Regions from separate parts of the Homo sapiens genome. Here all the other regions are linked to region 2. Evidence: fine-mapped expression QTL. A gene starts in region 2. Each other region holds a variant in brackets. All regions are shown on one strand. Distances are from middle to middle.

What was found. PIP is the estimated chance that this variant, and not a neighbour inherited with it, causes the effect.
Region 1: its variant is fine-mapped to the expression of WDR59 in whole blood (TOPMed, PIP above 0.99).
Region 3: its variant is fine-mapped to the expression of WDR59 in whole blood (INTERVAL, PIP 0.91).

Annotation. Positions count from the first base shown.
Region 1 is chr16:74,909,187-74,915,144 of GRCh38, reverse strand. WDR59 (WD repeat domain 59) reads left to right here. Exons shown (of 26, transcript NM_030581.4): 14 at 2,783-2,947; 15 at 5,228-5,323; 16 at 5,488-5,644. Among named protein-coding and RNA genes, the nearest start is that of WDR59, 73 kb to the left of the region's middle. The variant G/A (reference allele first, on the strand shown) is at 3,740.
Region 2 is chr16:74,982,652-74,988,609 of GRCh38, reverse strand. WDR59 (WD repeat domain 59) reads left to right here and starts at 3,487. Exons shown (of 26, transcript NM_030581.4): 1 at 3,487-3,646. The coding sequence starts at 3,593. RefSeq lists silencers at 2,196-2,396, 3,432-3,741 and an enhancer at 3,042-3,101.
Region 3 is chr16:75,008,578-75,014,535 of GRCh38, reverse strand. All of the region lies in intron 1 of ZNRF1 (zinc and ring finger 1), which reads right to left. Among named protein-coding and RNA genes, the nearest start is that of ZNRF1, 13 kb to the right of the region's middle. RefSeq lists enhancers at 2,207-2,296, 2,607-2,716. The variant C/T (reference allele first, on the strand shown) is at 3,247.

The DNA of each region.
Region 1 (5,958 bases), 73 kb after region 2:
TGGGCTGTGCCATCTTCTCTCACAGGCTGGCCATTTCCTGGTAATTTAGATTCACAGTAAGAAGGCAACCAAAACTTCTTTGTTTGCTTAGCCTGTGGAACAGTTACTTTTTTGGGGGCAAGTATTGAAAGTCTTTGCTTCAGAAAATTGAGTATCTCTCCAGAAAGGAGTTTTAAAGCTTGATTAGTTTTTCCTTTACCCAAATATGTGCTGTTACATAACTATCTCATGTGGCTTTTAAAACAAGTCTGCTGGCCAGGTGCGGTAGCTCACGCCTGTAATTCCAGCACTTTGGGAGGCCAAGGTAGACGGATCACAAGGTGAAGAGATCGACACCTTCTTGGCCAACATGGTAAAACCCCGTCTATACTAAAAATACAAAAATTAGCTGGTCATGGTGGCGTGCGCCTGTAGTCCCGGCTATTCACGAGGCTGAGGCAGGAGAATCGCTTGAACCCAGGAGGCAGAGCTTGCAGTGAGGCCGAGATCACACCACTACACTCCAGCCTGGCGACAGAGCAAGACTCCGTCTCGAAAAAAAAAAAAAAAATAGTCTGCTGTAAGTGGTTTTAGCCTCACTTTACAGCTGAGGAAACGGAGACATCAAGAGAAGAAATGTCCAAGGTCAGCAGCTATTTGGTGGAAGAAACAACATGTGAATCCAGGTCTCCAGATTTGCCACATGTGGTTCTTTTCTCTTTACTCCAGCTGCTGTCTCTAGTTGGCAACACAAGAAATGAAAAGATATAAAGGATTCTTTGCTTAATTAGTGATCTATATCAAGTCAGTTTATACTCCCTTTGTCCCATTTGAGGACAGTGTGGATACCTAGTGATCTAGTTTAAGATCTTGATTCCTTTCTTCGAGAGTACTTTAAAAAAATTATTGAGATATAATTCACACAGTATAAAGTTCATCTTTTTTTTTTTATTGAGATGGAGCCTTGCTCTGTCCGCTCAGACTGGAGTGCAGTGGTGCTACCGTGACTCACTGCAGGCTCTGCCTCTCGGGTTCACGCGATTCTCCTGCCTCAGCTTCCCAGATAGCTGGGATTATGGGCGCACGCCACCACGCTCAGCTAATTTTTTTTCGTATTTTTAGTAGAGATGGGGTTTTTGCCATGTTGGCCAGGTTGGCCTCGAACTCCTGATGTCAGTTGATCTGCCCACCTTGGCCTCCCAAAGTGCTGGGATTACAGGCGTGAGCCACTGTGCCCAGCCAAAATTCCGCTTTTTAAAGTATATAATCTGGCTGTTGTGGGTATATTCACAAAGTTGTACAGCCATTACCATTGTCTGATTCCAGAACATATTCATCATTCCCAGAAGAAACCCCATACCCATGAGCAGTCACTCCCTATTTCCCCTTCCCTCAGCCCGTGGCAATCCCGAATCTACTTTCTTCCCCTATGGATTTTCCCAGGAGCACTTTTTAAGTTGAGTCTGGTATTTAACTTCTTCCTGCTTTATTTTCCCATCTCAAAGTAAATATAACAAGTTTCAGTCTACCCCACAGCTTTGGGAGGGAGGAAGCTTTGTTAAAGTCAGAATACTTTGAACTTCGTGGTGGCTCATGCCTGTAATCCCAGCACTTTAGGAGGCCAAGGTGGGTGGATCACTGGAGGTCAGGAGTTTGAGACCAGCCTGGCCAACATGGCGAAACCCCATCTCTACCAAAACACAAAAAGCAAAACAACAACAACAACAACAAAACAAAGATTTGCTGGGCATGGTGGCCTGTAGTCCCAGTATTTGGGAGGTTGAGGTGGGAGAATCACTTGAACCCAGAAGGTGGAGGTTGCAGTGAGCTGAGATTGTGCCACACTGCACTCCAGCCTGGGTGACAAAGTGAGACCCTGTCTCAAAAAAAAAAAAAAAGAATACTTTGTGTTGGGAACAGGCCCCCTGAAATCTGGCCATAAACTGACCCTCTGTGTTGTTTGTCTTTGTGTAGTCTGCAGATGTGGATCTTGACTCCTGCAAGAAGTAGCTCACCGTGACAAAGCTGCCTTTGCTTTTATCACTTTGCAAATCAAAGAAGGGGGACATGTTGGGAACAGGCCCCCCCCCCCCCCAAAATCTAGCCATAAACTGGCCCCAAAACTGGCCATAAAGTCTCTGCAGCACTGTGACATGTTCATGATGGTGGTGATGCCCACGCTGGAAGGCTGTGGGTTTACCGGAATGAGGGCAAGGAACACCTGGCCCACCCAGGGCAGAAAACCGCTTAAACACGTTCTTAAACCACAAACAATAGCATAAGCAATCTGTGCCTTAAAGACATACTCCTGCTGCAGATAGCTAGCCACAGCCCATCCCTTTATTTCAGCCCATCCCTTTGTTTCCCATAAGGAATACTTTTAGTTAATCTATAATCTATAGAAACAATGCTTATCACTGGCTTGCTGTGGATAAATACATGGGTAAATCTTTGTTCAAGGCTCTCAGCTCTGAAGGCTGTGAGACCCCTGATTTCCCACTCCACACCTCTATATTTCTGTGTGTGTGTCTTTAATTCTTCTGGCACTGCTGGTTTAGGGTCACCCCGACCGAGCTGGTCTCAGCAACTTTGAGCTTATTCCATTGGTTTGAAAATTTTAAGAATCTGGTATGAAAATTTAAGAATCTTTTTGAAAATGAATTGTCTTCCACACACATTTGTCTTTGTAGACTCTTTCCCTTCATTCAATTACCAGGAACATGGAGCGTTCAGTTAAATGTGCTTGCATCGAAAGACGCTTTATGGTTTGTTTCTACAGCAATTGTGGATTTGTCTCTTGCAGATGGATGCGGCAGACAGGAGCTGCACAGTGTCTGTGCACTGCAGCAACCATCGTGTCAAGATGCTGGTGAAGTTCCCTGCACAGTACCCAAACAACGCCGCCCCTTCCTTCCAGTTTATTAACCCCACAACCATCACATCCACCATGAAAGCTAAGCTGCTGAAGGTGGGGGTCTGGGTTCCCAAATTCTCCTTGCTGTTCTGCATCATTGTCTAGATGGATTAGTAAAGAAGAATGAAAACTCCAGTAGATGAGATTCGGAAGTCATCTGTTTCGTACACACACTAGTATTAGCAACGTAACCTCTGAACTTGCCATTTACTTTGTGCAGAAAACATCAGAGCAGTGGTTCTTAACCTTTTTTGGGTCATAGACTTCCTTTGAATTCTAATGAAAATTATGGACCCTTCCTCAGAAAAATCTGCACAATGATTGCATATGATTTGAGAAATATTGCCTGTAAATATGTGAATTGCATAGAATCTGCCCACAGATCTCATTAATACTATGCATTCATCTCCGGTTAGGAGATTTGCAATCCAATTTCATTTAGCAGCCCAGGTTAGGAGCCCTGCAGTCCAATTTCATTTACCTGAAAACAACAAGCAAGATGTATTCTGAAGCTAAAAGATATTTTATAATTAGAAAAAAACATATGTAAGGTCATAAAAAAAATTTTATCCCATAGAAGGAGCTGGTGTTATCCTAGAGACAGGCTGGCTAGCTGCACAGTAGGTGTCCAGGTGGAGGCACCACAGCCTGGCATCTGTGTTTAATTCTGCAGATTCAGAGATTTAATGCATCAGTTCATCCAGAGCAAATCAGGTGGAATCTCCATGACAAAGCCCCATGAGCCTCTTCATACCCGTTCAGTCTGAGCAGTGTCACAAGTGAAGGGACTGAAGTATTCTGACAAACTCAGGCCAAGCTGAATGTTGCTCATTTTTTGTCCAGTTT[G/A]GGTCGTGGACACTTGATTGTTCCACCTTGTTGGGGGTATCACATGGAACCAGGAAATTTTCAAGTGGCTTAAGGATCTCTGAAATGCCAGTAACTCAGATCTTGTGGTATTTGACATGTTAAACTTGGAATCTGAATATGCCGTTGCCTAGTTTGGACATACAAAAAAGATAGATTTTTCTGTTAGTATAAAATGATACGATTAGGTTGCGAACTCTTTTGTGTGTGAAAAATCAGACCTTTTCCGGGTGCGGTGGCTCACTCCCGTAATCCCAGCACTTTGAGAGGCTGAGGCGGGTGGATCACCTGAGGTCAGGAGTTCAAGACCAGCCTGGGCAACATGGTGAAACCCCATGTCTACTAAAAATAGAAAAAGTAGCCAGGCGTGGTGGCGCATGCCTGTATTCCCAGCGACTCGGTAGGCTGAGGCAGGAGAATCACTTGAACCCAGGAGGTGGGGGTTGTAGTGAGCCAAGATCACGTGGCTGCACTCCAGTCTGGGCAACAGAGACTGCTGAGGCAGGAGAATGGCTTGAACCTGGGAGGCGGAGGCTGCAGTGAGCGGAGATCATGCCATTGCACTCCAGCCTGGGCAGTAAGAGCGACACTCCTCAAAAAAACAAAGGAAAAATCAGACCTTGGCGATGACTCAGCAGTAGGATATAAATAACTCCCACAAGCTTAGTGTTCCAATAATGGAACATTAGGCATAAATGGGTTTAAAGTGTTAGGATTTATACTTTTGAAGGACAAAAAATATACATTATAATTTTCACTGAAGTGAAATCCATGCCTCTTGTCACTGAGAGCAATTTCAATCCAGGCCAGTGAGTATTACTTCTAAGGTACTGACGTTTCTCATGGAGCAAGTGGTGTTGGGGGTGAGGAAAAGGGCAGAGTTCACTAGAAAGAAGTAATAGTCCTTCTGTTACTGAAAGCTGCCCTCTCAAAATCCACGTGTGCTGCCTTGATTAAGGAAAGAGCTTCTCTAGGAGGGCTCAGGAGTGAATCCTGTTTTAACCTCGGTAGAGGTAGAAATTAGATTATTACACTGTGTTGGAAGCCTTGACTTAACCATGCACCTGGCTCCCAGCATCACCCTTGTGTCTGACCACTTTGCAGAAGAAAAGCCAATCAGGGCCGGGCGCAGTGGCTCATGTCTGTAATCCCAGCACTTTGGGAGGCCGAGATGGGCAGATCACTTGAGGTCAGGAGTTCGAGACCAGCCTGGCCAACATGGTGAAACCCCTTCTCTACTAAAAATACAAAAATTAGCCAGGCATGGGGGTGGGCGCCTGTAGTCCCAGCTACTCGGGAGGCTGAGGCACAAGAATCACTTGAAGACGGGAGGCAGAGGTTGCAATGAGCCGAGATCGTACCACTACACTCCAGCCTGGGCAACAAAGAGAGACTTTGTCTCAAAAAAAAAAAAAAAACCTATCAGAGAAATGTGTTCCTCTTCTTGACTGTGTTTTGGGCCTTTTCTAGATCCTGAAGGACACAGCCCTGCAGAAAGTGAAGCGTGGCCAGAGCTGCCTGGAGCCCTGCCTGCGCCAGCTCGTCTCCTGCCTTGAGTCCTTTGTGGTGGGAAGCATGAAACTGTCATACCAACTTAGGCTTTGGTGTTTTGTTTCATTTCTTTCTCCCTAAAATCATGGGTTTTCTGGTTTTGTCATACTGGGTCTTTATTTTGTAGTTCAGCTTTAAGACAGGTTGTGGTTTTTAGCTTGTGGATTTTTAAATTTCAGAACCAGGAAGACAGCGCTTCCAGCAACCCGTTTGCACTCCCCAACTCTGTCACTCCCCCCTTACCGACGTTTGCGCGGGTGACCACGGCTTACGGGTCGTACCAGGACGCCAACATTCCCTTTCCTAGGACTTCTGGGGCCAGGTTCTGCGGAGCAGGTGGGTCTCTTTGGTTCTTTGATTCTAGATTTCGAGAGGGAGCAGCTAAGAATGTCATAGATTCTGTATAAACATCTTCATCAGAAAATGTTTGCTTTTACTCCCGAGAACTCAAACGAGACTTTCATGGTAGCGTGGTAGGGTCTGAGGCCCAGTCGGTGTCTGTGGACTTATCCTAAGAGGGTGCACCAGAATGGGGGTCTTAACTTTCTTCATTCTGATGAGCTTGGATTTGAGTCTTTACTCAGAGCCCTGATTCTTAGCAGGGGGCATTCGCCTGGTAGGGAGGCTTAGAGTCCTGCTGATGACTCTGC
Region 2 (5,958 bases):
TTTTTAGTAGAGACGGGGTTTCACCATGTTAGCCAGGATGGTCTTGATCTCCTGACCTCGTGATCCGCCCTCCTTGGCCTCCCAAAGTGCTGGATTACAGGCGTGAGCCACCGCACCTGGCCTACGGTGGGTTTCTAAAGAAAAAGAAGGGGCAGTTCCTAAAGTCTTTACTAAGAATTTACCTCAAAATAACATAAGCTACTGATTGGCTATACGTTGTTCTTTGTATCACAAATTCGAGAAACATGAAGATAATGGATGAGGTAGCCAGTCAGGAATGAAATGACTTTAATTTTAATTTTTTTTTAGAGACAGGGTTTTGTTCTGTCACCCAGGCTGGAGCACAGTGGCGCGATCATAGCTTTTTGCAGCCTCAACCTCCCAGACTCAAGCAGTCCTCTCACCTCACCTTCCCATGTAGTTGGGACTACAGATGCATGCCACCACGCCTGGCTAATTTTAATTTTTTTTTTTTTAGAGATGGGGTCTTGCCATGTTGTCCAGGCTGGTCTCGAACTCCTGGACTTAAATGATTCTGTCAAATAACAGGTGTGAGCAAACACGTCCAGCCTTTGCTCACACTCTTAATGGTGAAGTGTTTTTTTTTTTTTCATAGTGTACTGTATCAATATCTTAACATTATACTGAAAAGCTCAGATGTCGGGCCGGATGCAGTGGCTCACGCCTGTAATCCCAGCACTTTGGGAGGCCGAGGTGGGCAGATCACGAGGTCAGGAGATCAAGACCATCCTGGCTAACACGGTAAAACCCCATCTCTACTAAAAATACAAAAAATTAGCCGGATGTGGCAGCGTGCGCCTGTAGTCCCAGCTACTTGGGAGCTGAGGCAGGAGAATGGCGTGAACCCGGGAGGCGGATCTTGCAGTGATCCACCCACCACTGCACTCCAGCCTGGGCGACAGAAGGAGACTCCGTCTCAAAACAAAACAAAACAAAACAAAACAAAACAAAACAAAGCTCAGATGTCATATTCTTCAAGATTTCAAGATGCCATTTCGGGTCGCCTATTTAGGCTTTTCTCTCCTGCCATATTGCTTGCAAATCTATTATAATATACAAGTCATTCTGCCAAGCACATTCCTGTTGTAGAGTAACCAGTTGTCCCAGTTTGCCTGGAACTTATGGGTTTCTTGGGATGCAAGACTTTTTGGTGATGCAGTGCTAGAATATGAAAAGGGATCAGGCATGGTGGCTCACACCTATGGTCCCAGCTAATCCAGAGGCTGAGGCCGGAGGATCACTTGCTTGAAGCCACTACTTTGAAACCACCCTGGGCAACACAACGAGACCATCTCTACAAAAAGTAAAAAAAAAAAAAAAAAAAAATAGCTGGGCATAGTAGCACATGCCTGTAGTCCCAGTTACTTGGGAGGCTGAGGCAGGAGGATTGCTTGGGCCCAGGAGTTGGAGGCTGTGGTGAGCTATGCTCACACCACTGCACTCCAGCCTCAGTGACAGAACGAGACCCTTTCTCCAAAAAAATAAAAATAAAACATGAAACGGTCCAGGCAACAAGTTAGTCACCGTAATCTGTCAACAAGTCTGTCTTCCCCCTTATAGCCAATACTCCAGGAGGGAAGAGACCACACTTTCTTACCTCTATTCATACAATGACTTGCACATACAAATAGTGATAATATTAACAACAACAATAACAGTTTATTTTATTTTATTTTTATTGATTTCCTGGCTTCTAGAACTGAATTAATAGTTTATAGTTGAGCTTTTCTACATCCCAGGCCCTGTGCTTAGTTCCTTACAACAATCCAATGAGGTAAGCCATTTTTCCCTTCTATAGGGAAACTGAAGCTAAACCAGTTAAATCAACATTTAAGAGTGTGGGACTGAAAAGGAAACTTAATCACCACCCACCATGTTAGTACAGTGGTTCTCAAACTTTTTGATCTTGGAATCCCTTTACACTGCTGTTAAAAATTACTGAAAATCCCAAAAAAACTTTTTTTTTTTTTTTGACAAGGTCTTGCTCTGTCGCCCAGGCTGGAGTACAGTAATGTGATCCTAGCTTACTGCAGCCTCCTTCTGGGCTCAAGCCATCCGTCCACGTCAGCCTCCCAAAGTGCTGGGATTACAGGCATGAGCCACTGCGTCCGGCCCCCAAAAACTTTTATATGTAGTATACAGAATTTAAAAAATATATTCATTATTTCATTTAAACATTAAGGCCCTTCACATGAATACATTTTAAAATGAAAAAGAACAATATTTTCAAAAAAAAAAAAAAACAACAAAAAATTCTGGCAAATCTGTTTTAATGTTTGGTTTATCAGAAAACAGCGGCCGGGCGCGGTGGCTCACGCCTGTAATCCCAGCACTTTGGGAGGCCGAGACGGGCAGATCACGAGGTCAGAAGATCGAGACCATCCTGGCTAAAACGGTGAAACCCCGTCTCTACTAAAAATACAAAAAAATTAGCCGGGCGTAGTGGCGGGCGCCTGTAGTCCCAGCTACTCCGGAGGCTGAGTCAAGAGAATGGCGTGAAGCCAGGAGGCGGATCTTGCAGTGAGCCGAGATCGCGCCACTGCACTCCAGCCTGGGCGACTGAGCAAGACTCTGTCTCAAAAAAAAAAAAAAAAAAAAAAAAAGAAAAGGAAAGAAAGCAGCTGGATTGCAGGAGGGGGTATAGCTCACAGGTAGAGCATTGGACTACAGATCAAGAAAACAGCTGGATTCTCACATTTAAGTCTACCTTCATTGTTACGGGAGGCGCTGCTGTATTGTATGAAACAATAAATTGCACATTCAGACTTTTAAATATCTCGATGGGATAGGCATCAGGAGAAGAGGTATCTTCGGTTTGCACGAGCTTTGATTTTTCTTTTTTCTTTTTTTTTCCGAGACGGAGTCTCGCTCTTGTCACCCAGGCTGGAGTATAATGGCGTGATCTCGGCTCACTGCAATCTCCGCCTCCCGGGTTCAAGCGATTCTCCTGCCCCAGCCTCCCAAGTAGCTGGGATTACAGGCGCCCGCCACCCGGCTAATTTTTGTATTTTTAGTAGAGACGGGGTTTCACTATGTTGTTTAGGCTGGTCTCGAACTCCTGACTTCGGCCTCCCAAAGCGCTAGGATTACAGGCGTGAGTCACCGCACCCGCCCCGAACGTTGATTTTGATTTGAGACTGGGTCTGGACGAATGCTGGGGACTCCAGCGAGGAGCTAGTCAGGACAACAGGCACCTCACCTCACCCAAACCCAAACCTGCGAGCCCTTCCCAGGTCACCCACGCTTGCTCGAGCTTGGACTACAACTCCCGGCAGAGCTCGCGGCAGGGGGTGTGCCCGCAATCGCGAGGAGCGTGGGTGACTCAAACCAAGTGACGGAAGTGAGCGAGGGCGTGCCTGTTTGTTGCAGGCGCGGTGTAGCAATTGGAGGACCCAGGAAGAAGGGGCGGAGCCTATGCTTGGGTCAACCAATGGCTTGAGCTCAGGAGCAACCAGGGCACGGGGCGTGTCGGGGCTGATTCTCTGGCTGTGTGGGGCGCACGGTCCCGGGATACTGGGGACGGCGGGGTGGGAGGGCGCCGTCCTGGGGCCGCGGCGGCCGGGCGGGGGAGATGGCGGCGCGATGGAGCAGCGAAAACGTGGTTGTAGAGTTCCGTGACTCCCAGGTGAGCTAGAGGCCGAGTGGAGCCCTCTGGGCATGCGTCCTCCCCGCTTCCCCTCCCCCACGCGGCTGCTTCCGTCCCGGGGGGCTACGGGGAGACCCTAGGCCCCGTACTGAGGAGGTGGGCGGGGCTTAGCCGACCTCTTAGGCCCCGTCGGGGGAGGGAAGACGACCATCGGGGGCAATCGGGGCGAGCATGGACGGAGTTTCGGGGCTCCCTACGCGGGTAGGGGAGTGGGGTCCGCCTTGTGACACTGAGGCAGAGACTGCGCATCGTGAGTGCTGAGGGGAGGCTTCCCACAATCAGGGTACGGAGCGAGGGCGTGACGGCTTCCCGAGGCCCTAGCCGCGTGTGGCGACTTAAGGCAAGTCGCGGGACTTTTCTAAGTCTCAGCTGCGTGGACGTAACCCTGTTGGGGTGAATTCGATGAAACACTGTTTGCAAAGTGCCTGTTGCAGCGTCTACGCGGTTAAGTGGTTCTTAATGCCATCATACTGGAAAATACCGTGTAGTGGATAGGAGTGACACTGCACGTGTTGCCCGAGTTCGAATCCCGCAGCCCCTACCCTGTCATCACTCCGTACACGTCAGTTTTCTCACCTGTAGAAGGGAGATGGTCGTACTTACAAGATTGGCTTAAAGATTTTATTTTTTAATTTTCTATTTAATTTAATTTAATTTATTTTTTTTGAGATGGAGAGTCACTCTGTTGCCCAGGCTGGAGTGCAGTGGTGCCATCTTGGCTCACTGCAACCTCCGCCTCCGGGATTCAAGCAATTCTCCTGCCTCAGCCTCCCAAGTAGCTGGGATTACAGGTGCGCACCACCACGCCCGGCTAATTTTTGTATTTTTAGTAGAGACGGGGTTTCACCTTGTTGGTCAGGCTGGTCTTGAACTCCTGACCTCAGGTGATCCACCCACCTCAGCCTCCCAAAGTGCTGGGATTACAGGCGTGGGCCACCGTGCCTGGCCTATTTTACTTCATTTGAGACAGGGTCTGGCTCTGTCACCCAGGCTTGAGTGCAGAGGCGTGAATCACCGCTCAGTTCAGCTTCGACCTCCTGGGCTCAAGCTATCCTCCCACCTCAGCCTCCCCAGTAGCTGAGACTACAGGCGCATGCCAACACGCCCGACTAAATTTTTCATTTTTTTTTGTAGAGACGGGGTCTCCCTATGTTGTCCAGGCTGGTATGGAACTCCTGGGCTCAAGCGAACCCCCTGCCTCAGCGTCCCAAAGTGTTGGGATTACAGGTGTGATTCACTGAGCACAGCCTCGAGTGAAGATTTTATGTGGTTGTATGTTGAGGATGTGTGGCACACACAGCATTGGGATTTGGATGCTGGATCCTACCCCAGAGCCCTTGTTTAGCTCATTGGACTACTTTACTCATAGTGGGTAGCTCTGAACCGGTCATATACATCCCCTCTTCCCCAGCACCTAGGACAGTGTCTTGGTGATTCTCTTCAATTTTAAATTTATTTACCTTTTTTTTTGAGACAGAGTCTCACTCTATGACCCAGACTGTAGTGTAGTGGCATGATCTTGGTTCACTGCAACCTCTGCCTCCCAGGTTCAAACGATTCTTGTGCCTCAGCCTCCCGAGTAGCTGGGATTACAGGCACGTGCCACCATGCCTGGCTAAGTTTTGTATTTTTTGTAGAGACGGGGTTTCGCTCTGTTGGCCAGGCTGGTCTTGAACTCCTGGCCTCAAGTGATCCATCTGCCTTGGCCTCCTAAAGTGCTGGGATTACAGGTGTGAGCCACTACACCTGGCCTATTATTTTTTGTAGAGACAGAGTCTCTTTGTGTTGCCCAGGCTGGTCTTGAACCCCTGGCCTCAGGCGATTCTCCCACTTTGGCCTCCCAAAATATTGGGATTACAGGTGTGAGCGACTGTGCCTGGCCATTCTTTTCATTTATTCAACTAATATTTATCAAATACCTTCTGTGTGCCACACTTTTATTCACTCATTTATTCAACAAGGATTTACTGAGCTCCCTTCAGGTATACACTATACCATGCACAGGTGATTCATACTGAGGGAGATCTGGATAAGTATGAATGGGTGATGTGGTTTCTTCTTTCCAAAACCCCATCCTGTCTTTTGCCGGAGAATGAGTGAGTGGAGGAGCTACCCACCATTTTGCTCTGTGGTGCCCTCTGATCAGTAGCCTCTACTGAGAATTTGAGCAGTAGCATTTGGATTAAGGACCCCCAAGTACTGTCAGCACAGAGTCTCCGTGAGACCTGCTCTCCCTAGGGAGGCGCCAGACTCCTTGGAAAAGGAACCATATTCCTGTTTTCTTTCTTGTT
Region 3 (5,958 bases), 26 kb before region 2:
AATAGATCAATAAATAGATCAATAGAGTATAGCTGTGAAAATAAATGTGCTATAGCAATAAGTAGTAAAATGAATTTATATACTACCTCCATTTTGAGGTAGCATATATACACACACACACCTCATAATATCTTTCTCCTTCCATGTCTATACAGTTTACATGAAGTTTACAGAAAACAAATGGTGTTTTGGATAGCTACAGGGAGCAAAAGCATGAACATATATGGCGGGAAAAACACGAGTGAGGGCAGTCGTTCCCTTTGGAGAGGGAAAGAGAAAATGGGAATAAGCCAGGGTACATACAATTATACCTGTAATGTTTTAGTTATTATAATCTGCTTGGTAGGTGAGCATATTATCTTTCTTGAATGCCTAAAATATTTCATTTTTAAAAAAATAATTCCAGGCTAGGCGCGGCAGCTCACACCTCTAATCCCAGCACTTTGGGAAGATAAGGCGGGTGGATCATCTGAGGTCAGGAGTTCAAGACCGGCCTGGCCAACACGGTGAAACACGGCCTCTACTAAAAATACAAAAAATTAGTCGGGTGTGGTGGTGTTTGCCTGTAATCCCAACTACTCGGGAGGCTGAGGCAGGAGAATTACTTGAACCTGGGAGGCAGAGGTTGCAGTGAGCCAAAACCACACCACTGCCCCCTAGCCTGGGCGATACAGTGAGACTCCGTCTCGAAAAAAAAAATAAAATTAAATTAAAAATAAATAAATAAATAATTCCAAGACACCAAAGAGTTCCCATTTTCAGAGTCACACAGCTATTTGAGTTCCTGAAATGTACAAGTGAACCAAATTGAAATAGCACAAATCTCTGACTTTTCCATTTAGTAACCGCAGGACTAAAACTTCAGAGTTCATTACTAAAACTGAATGGACAGGCCTGGCGCGGTGGCTCACGCCTGTAATCCCAGCACTCTGGGAGGCCAAGGCGGGTGGATCACGAGGTCAACAGATTGAGACCATCCTGGCTAACATGGTAAAACCCCATCTCTCCTAAAAATACAAAAATTAGCTAGGCATGGTGGCATGCACCTGCAGTCCCAGCTACTCGGGAGGCTGAGGCAGAAGAATCGCTTGAACCCGGGAGGCAGAGGTTGCAGTGAGCTGAGATCACGCCACTGCACTCCAGCCTGGCGACAGAGTGAGACTCCATCTCGGAAAAAAAAAAAAAATTGAATGGACAGAAAAAGTAAGAGTCAGGGCTCCAGGCTGGAACTCATGATAAGACTTACCCTGTGGGCCCTCAAGTAAAGAGACAGAGAAGTAATTCTTACTCCTTTATAAAGGTGATCATCACTTTTCTCTGTGTTCTGAACTCCTTAGGCAAAAGATACTTTATAATTACTTGTATGCTGTCATATGAAAGTGTTGAACCTCTACTATATAACCTAAGAAAAATTGGTCCTTTCTGAACAGAGGTTCCTAATTGCTTTTTCCTTGTTTGAAGGAGTTAAAAGTCATTGTTGAAGGATGTATCTCTAATCCTACAGAACTGATGCCTTCAAGAAAACTCACTCCCACAATTCTCTCTCCTGGTTCCATGCCTGTGCCCTTTATTATGTTTTGCTGGCTCTTATGCATCAAATGCTCACTTCCTGTTTCCCCTTTATTGAGCTCTGGAGACCTGGAACCGGTAACAGGCTTTGAAGAAAAGTACAAAGCCAGGAAAACACAGAAGACAGGCCATGACTCTCCAAAGGAAAGCAAATCTTAACACATTTCTAATAACCGTTCAGCCCTTCCCGTCTGTAGCTTATGTAAGATAGTGGTTCAGACATGAGTCCCGAGAAACTGTAAATAATGAAGTTGAAAACAGCTAAAACTCACGCTAGGTTGGCAGAAAAGTTTAAGACAGGCAACTGAGATTTGATATCATAATTCTGGCTTGTTCTAAGCTCTCAGTATCCCTAAATGTTTCATTTTCACTATGCCACAAGGAGGCTGACTGGGTGGCGTCTCCTCTGGGCGCCACTCTAAATGCTTTAGACCTAAAATCTTAGAAGAGCACAGACGACCTTATATGAATCCACTTTTTGTAAAGTGTGCCATGATCAGTGCCAAGCACCAAGCTGACCATATGGAAAAGGGGGGCACAGACAGTAAGGAAATTCCCCATGACCTCTAGATTCTCATCATTAGGTCCACAGCCATCCTTTAATCCAGAAAGCTGATGTTCTGCCTATAAATGGCTTCTGGCTCTCTAACCCAAGGCCTCCTTCCATCTCATGATCCTTTTACACTACAACGGTGTTTTAATTGAAACTCCAGTCTCACTGGTCATGCTACTGCAGCAATTCACTGAGCACAGGCTTCTCTGTTCTATTCTGCTGTCCTGCACTTTGAATTCAGGGCTTGGTGTCAGCATGGAAAGCACCAGCGTTCTGATATGGCAGCCTTTGGTTATGTTCCCCTCAAGGGATTTATCATCCACAACCTACTCAAATCCCTCCCCCAACAGCTACCAAAAATTCCCCTGGTGAGAAATGCTATTATGAGAAGGGGTGGTGGCTGCTTTATGACTCACACTGTTTCATTAAAAAGATTTTTTTTTCAAACAAATTTTCAGTAGAGGAATCCAAAGGTTTTCCAAAGCCACAGCAAAACAGAACAGCTCATAATACTATTTCTCAAAGGTCTGCCACTTCATAGGAGATTCCTATACCTCAAAAAACTGGAGACATTTAGATTCACTATCCTTTTGTGCTGCCCTTGGCCTCTGGGTTGAGGAAGCAAGTAGGAAATGGATCAATTAAACACAGCCAACATGACTGGGCTCGTCAGATATTAAGATGGATGGCAGCTAGCTTGCAAGTCAGCCCTTATCACAGGTCTTAAGACTTGCTTATAGCTTTCCAGGGCACTGGCTGCAATGGCATGAATGTTTCAGTCATAGCTAACCAGAGTTGAGGAAATCTAATAATATAGGATGTACATGGGTATTTAGGAACACTTGTTATAGCAGCAGGCAGAGCTATAAAAAAGTGTCTTTGGCCAGGCATGGTGGCGTGTGCCCACAGTCCCAGCTACTCAGGAGGCTAGGGTAGGAGGATGTCTTAAGCCCAGGAGTTCATGTCCAGCCTGGGCAACATAGTGAGACCTTGTCTCTGAAAAAAAGTTTGTTTTTAGTTAAAAAATAAAAGTTTCTTCGAAAAGCTGACTTAAATGCTGTTATACTTTTGATATTAAATGGTTACACCATTTAGATCATTTACACAATCTAAATGGACTAGAA[C/T]AATATTACAGAAAACTAATTTGTTAGGTTGGAATCCCAAGGGCTCCCTCAAATCCTTGTAGGATTCCCAGAATACTCAGGCAGGCAGCAGGATAAAAGAATCTTAATGGCTCTCTCCAAAAAAGGCACCTTCTCCACAGGGAAAAGGTTATTTAAGATGGAAACAAAATGAAAAGATCTCCAAAAAGCTAAGAAGTATGTGCAAAATGACCACGTCAGATGAGGCCTGTGATCTTAGGTTCTCCTACCTCTGTTCCTGAATCCAGGTTAAAGCTTCTCCCAGCTGGGCATGGTGGCTCACGCCTGCAATCCCAGCACTCTGGGAGGCCAAGGTGGGCGGATCACTTGAGGTCAGGAGTTCAAGACCAGCCTGGCCAATTGGCGAAACCCCATCTCTACTAAAAGTACAAAATTAGCCGGCTGTGGTGGCACATGCCTGTAATTCCAGCTACTTGGGAGGCTGAAGCAAGAGAATTGCTTGAGCCCAGGAGGCAGAGGTTGCAGTGAGTGGAGATCATGCCACTGCACTCCAGCCTGGTGACAGAGCGAGACTCCTCAAAAAAAAAAAAACAAAAAAACAAAAAAAAACAGTACAGTACAGAGGTGACTAATTTCAGAACAACTCTTTATGAAGTATGGATTAATTACTTTTCAGAGGGCTCAAGCTACTACCAACAAGAAAGTTGGAGCACTCCTATGACAAGTCTGATTCACCAAGACCAAGATGAGAGACCATACATACCTAAATACGAAGTGAAATTTCTCCAAAAATTATCCTTCTGAAAGTAAGGCACTACCAACAGCCAAAGTACTCATAAAATCTCTTGGCATGAGACAATTCGTTAAATTCTTTATTTTGAGCAAAATGTACTCAAATATAACACAGATTTATTACTTATTCCCGAGGGGAATACATTACAGTCACTAGTGTTGGCTATCATAAACAAGGCTTTAAAAAGTTTCTTAAAACTGCACTAAAATCAACAACGAAAGAAAAAAGCAACCCAGGCCGGGTGTGGTGGCTCACACCTGTAATCCCTGCACTTTGGGAGGCTGAGGCGGGTGGATCACCTGAGGCCAGGAGTTCGAGACCAGCCTGGCCAATATGGTGAAACCTTGTCTCTACTAAAAATACAAAAATTAGCAGGGCATGATGGTAGGCGCCTATAATCCCAGCTACTCTGGAGGCTGAGGCAGGAGAATCGCTTGAACCCGGGGGGCAGAGGTTGTAGTGAGCTGAGACTGAACCACTGCACTTCAGCCTGGGCAACAGGGCAAAACTCCGTATCAAAAGAAAAGAAAAGAGGCAACCTGATTCAAACATGGACATATAAATAGATTATTTCTCCAAAAAAGATATACAAATGGCCAATAAACACATGAAAAGATGCTCAATATCACTAATTCATTAGAGAAATGCAAATGAATACTATGGGATACTACCTCACATCCATTAAGATGGCTACTATTAAAAAAAAAAACAGAAAATAACAAGTATTGGCAAGGATGTGGAGAAACTGGAAGCCTGTGCACTGTTGGTAGGAATATAAAATGGTGCAGCTACTGTGGAAAACAGTATGGTGGTTCCTCAAAAAATTAAAAATAGAATCACCAAATGATGGAGCAATTCCACTTCTGGGTATATTCTCAAAAGGAGTGAAAGCAGGGTCTTGAAGAGATATTAAGAAATTCACATTTCTAACAATGAATTACAGCTATTTACAATAGCTAAAATATGGAAGCAACCCAAGCGTCCAGCAACAGATGAATGGAAAAGTAAAACGTGGTAGACAGACAATGGAATACGATTCAACCTTTAAAAGAAAGGAAATTCTGAAATATGCTACAATGCAGATGAACCTTGAGGACACTACGCTAAGTGAAATAGGACAGCCACAAAAAGACAAATACTGTACGAGTCCACTTACATGCAGTACTTAGAATACCACTGAACTGTACACTTAAAAACGGTTAAGATAGTAAATTTTGTTACATATATTTTATGACAGTTAAAAAAACAAAACAAAACTGGGGAGGTGGGGGAGAGGGGAGCCAGCACAGAAGTGTAGATGTTGTGAAGTTCAGAGACATAGACTTATAATACCAAGGATGAAATTTCCTTATGGGTATTTGTGGCTTGGGATAAATTTTACAGAGACAGATTTAAAAAGTGGTGAATCATGCTTCTAGAAAATAGTGTTCAATGACCAGAAAGAAAAGTGGCTCTAGGGATGACAAAGATACTGAAATTAAAGATGCACATGAAGAGTCTGAAAATCAGTTTTTCTTTTGATATTCTCACTGAGAGGACAGAGGACCCCTCATACTGAGACATACGAGGAATTTCTTGGTAGGTACTTAGCTGGAATCACAAAGAAAAGATCACCTGCCCCAACCCAGAAATAGGGCTTTGGAAAAAAATGAGTGAAGAGAAGTATATCCTTGCAGCAGCCTTATGGACAAACACCTACATTTATTTGTTTATTCAACAGAGGAGCTGATGAAAAGGTAAAATCTCCCAGAAGCTAAAATATTCAGACTCTTAAGGAGTGAGGAAGCAAAGATTCTTGGAAAGAATAAGTTAATTGCTCTATAATAAATATATATATTCTCAGCACCTACCATAGGTCCTGGTATACCAGAGGCTATCAATGGAATAAATGAACGTTTTTGTTCAACAGATCATCACACACAAAGAAAAAAAAGTCTTAT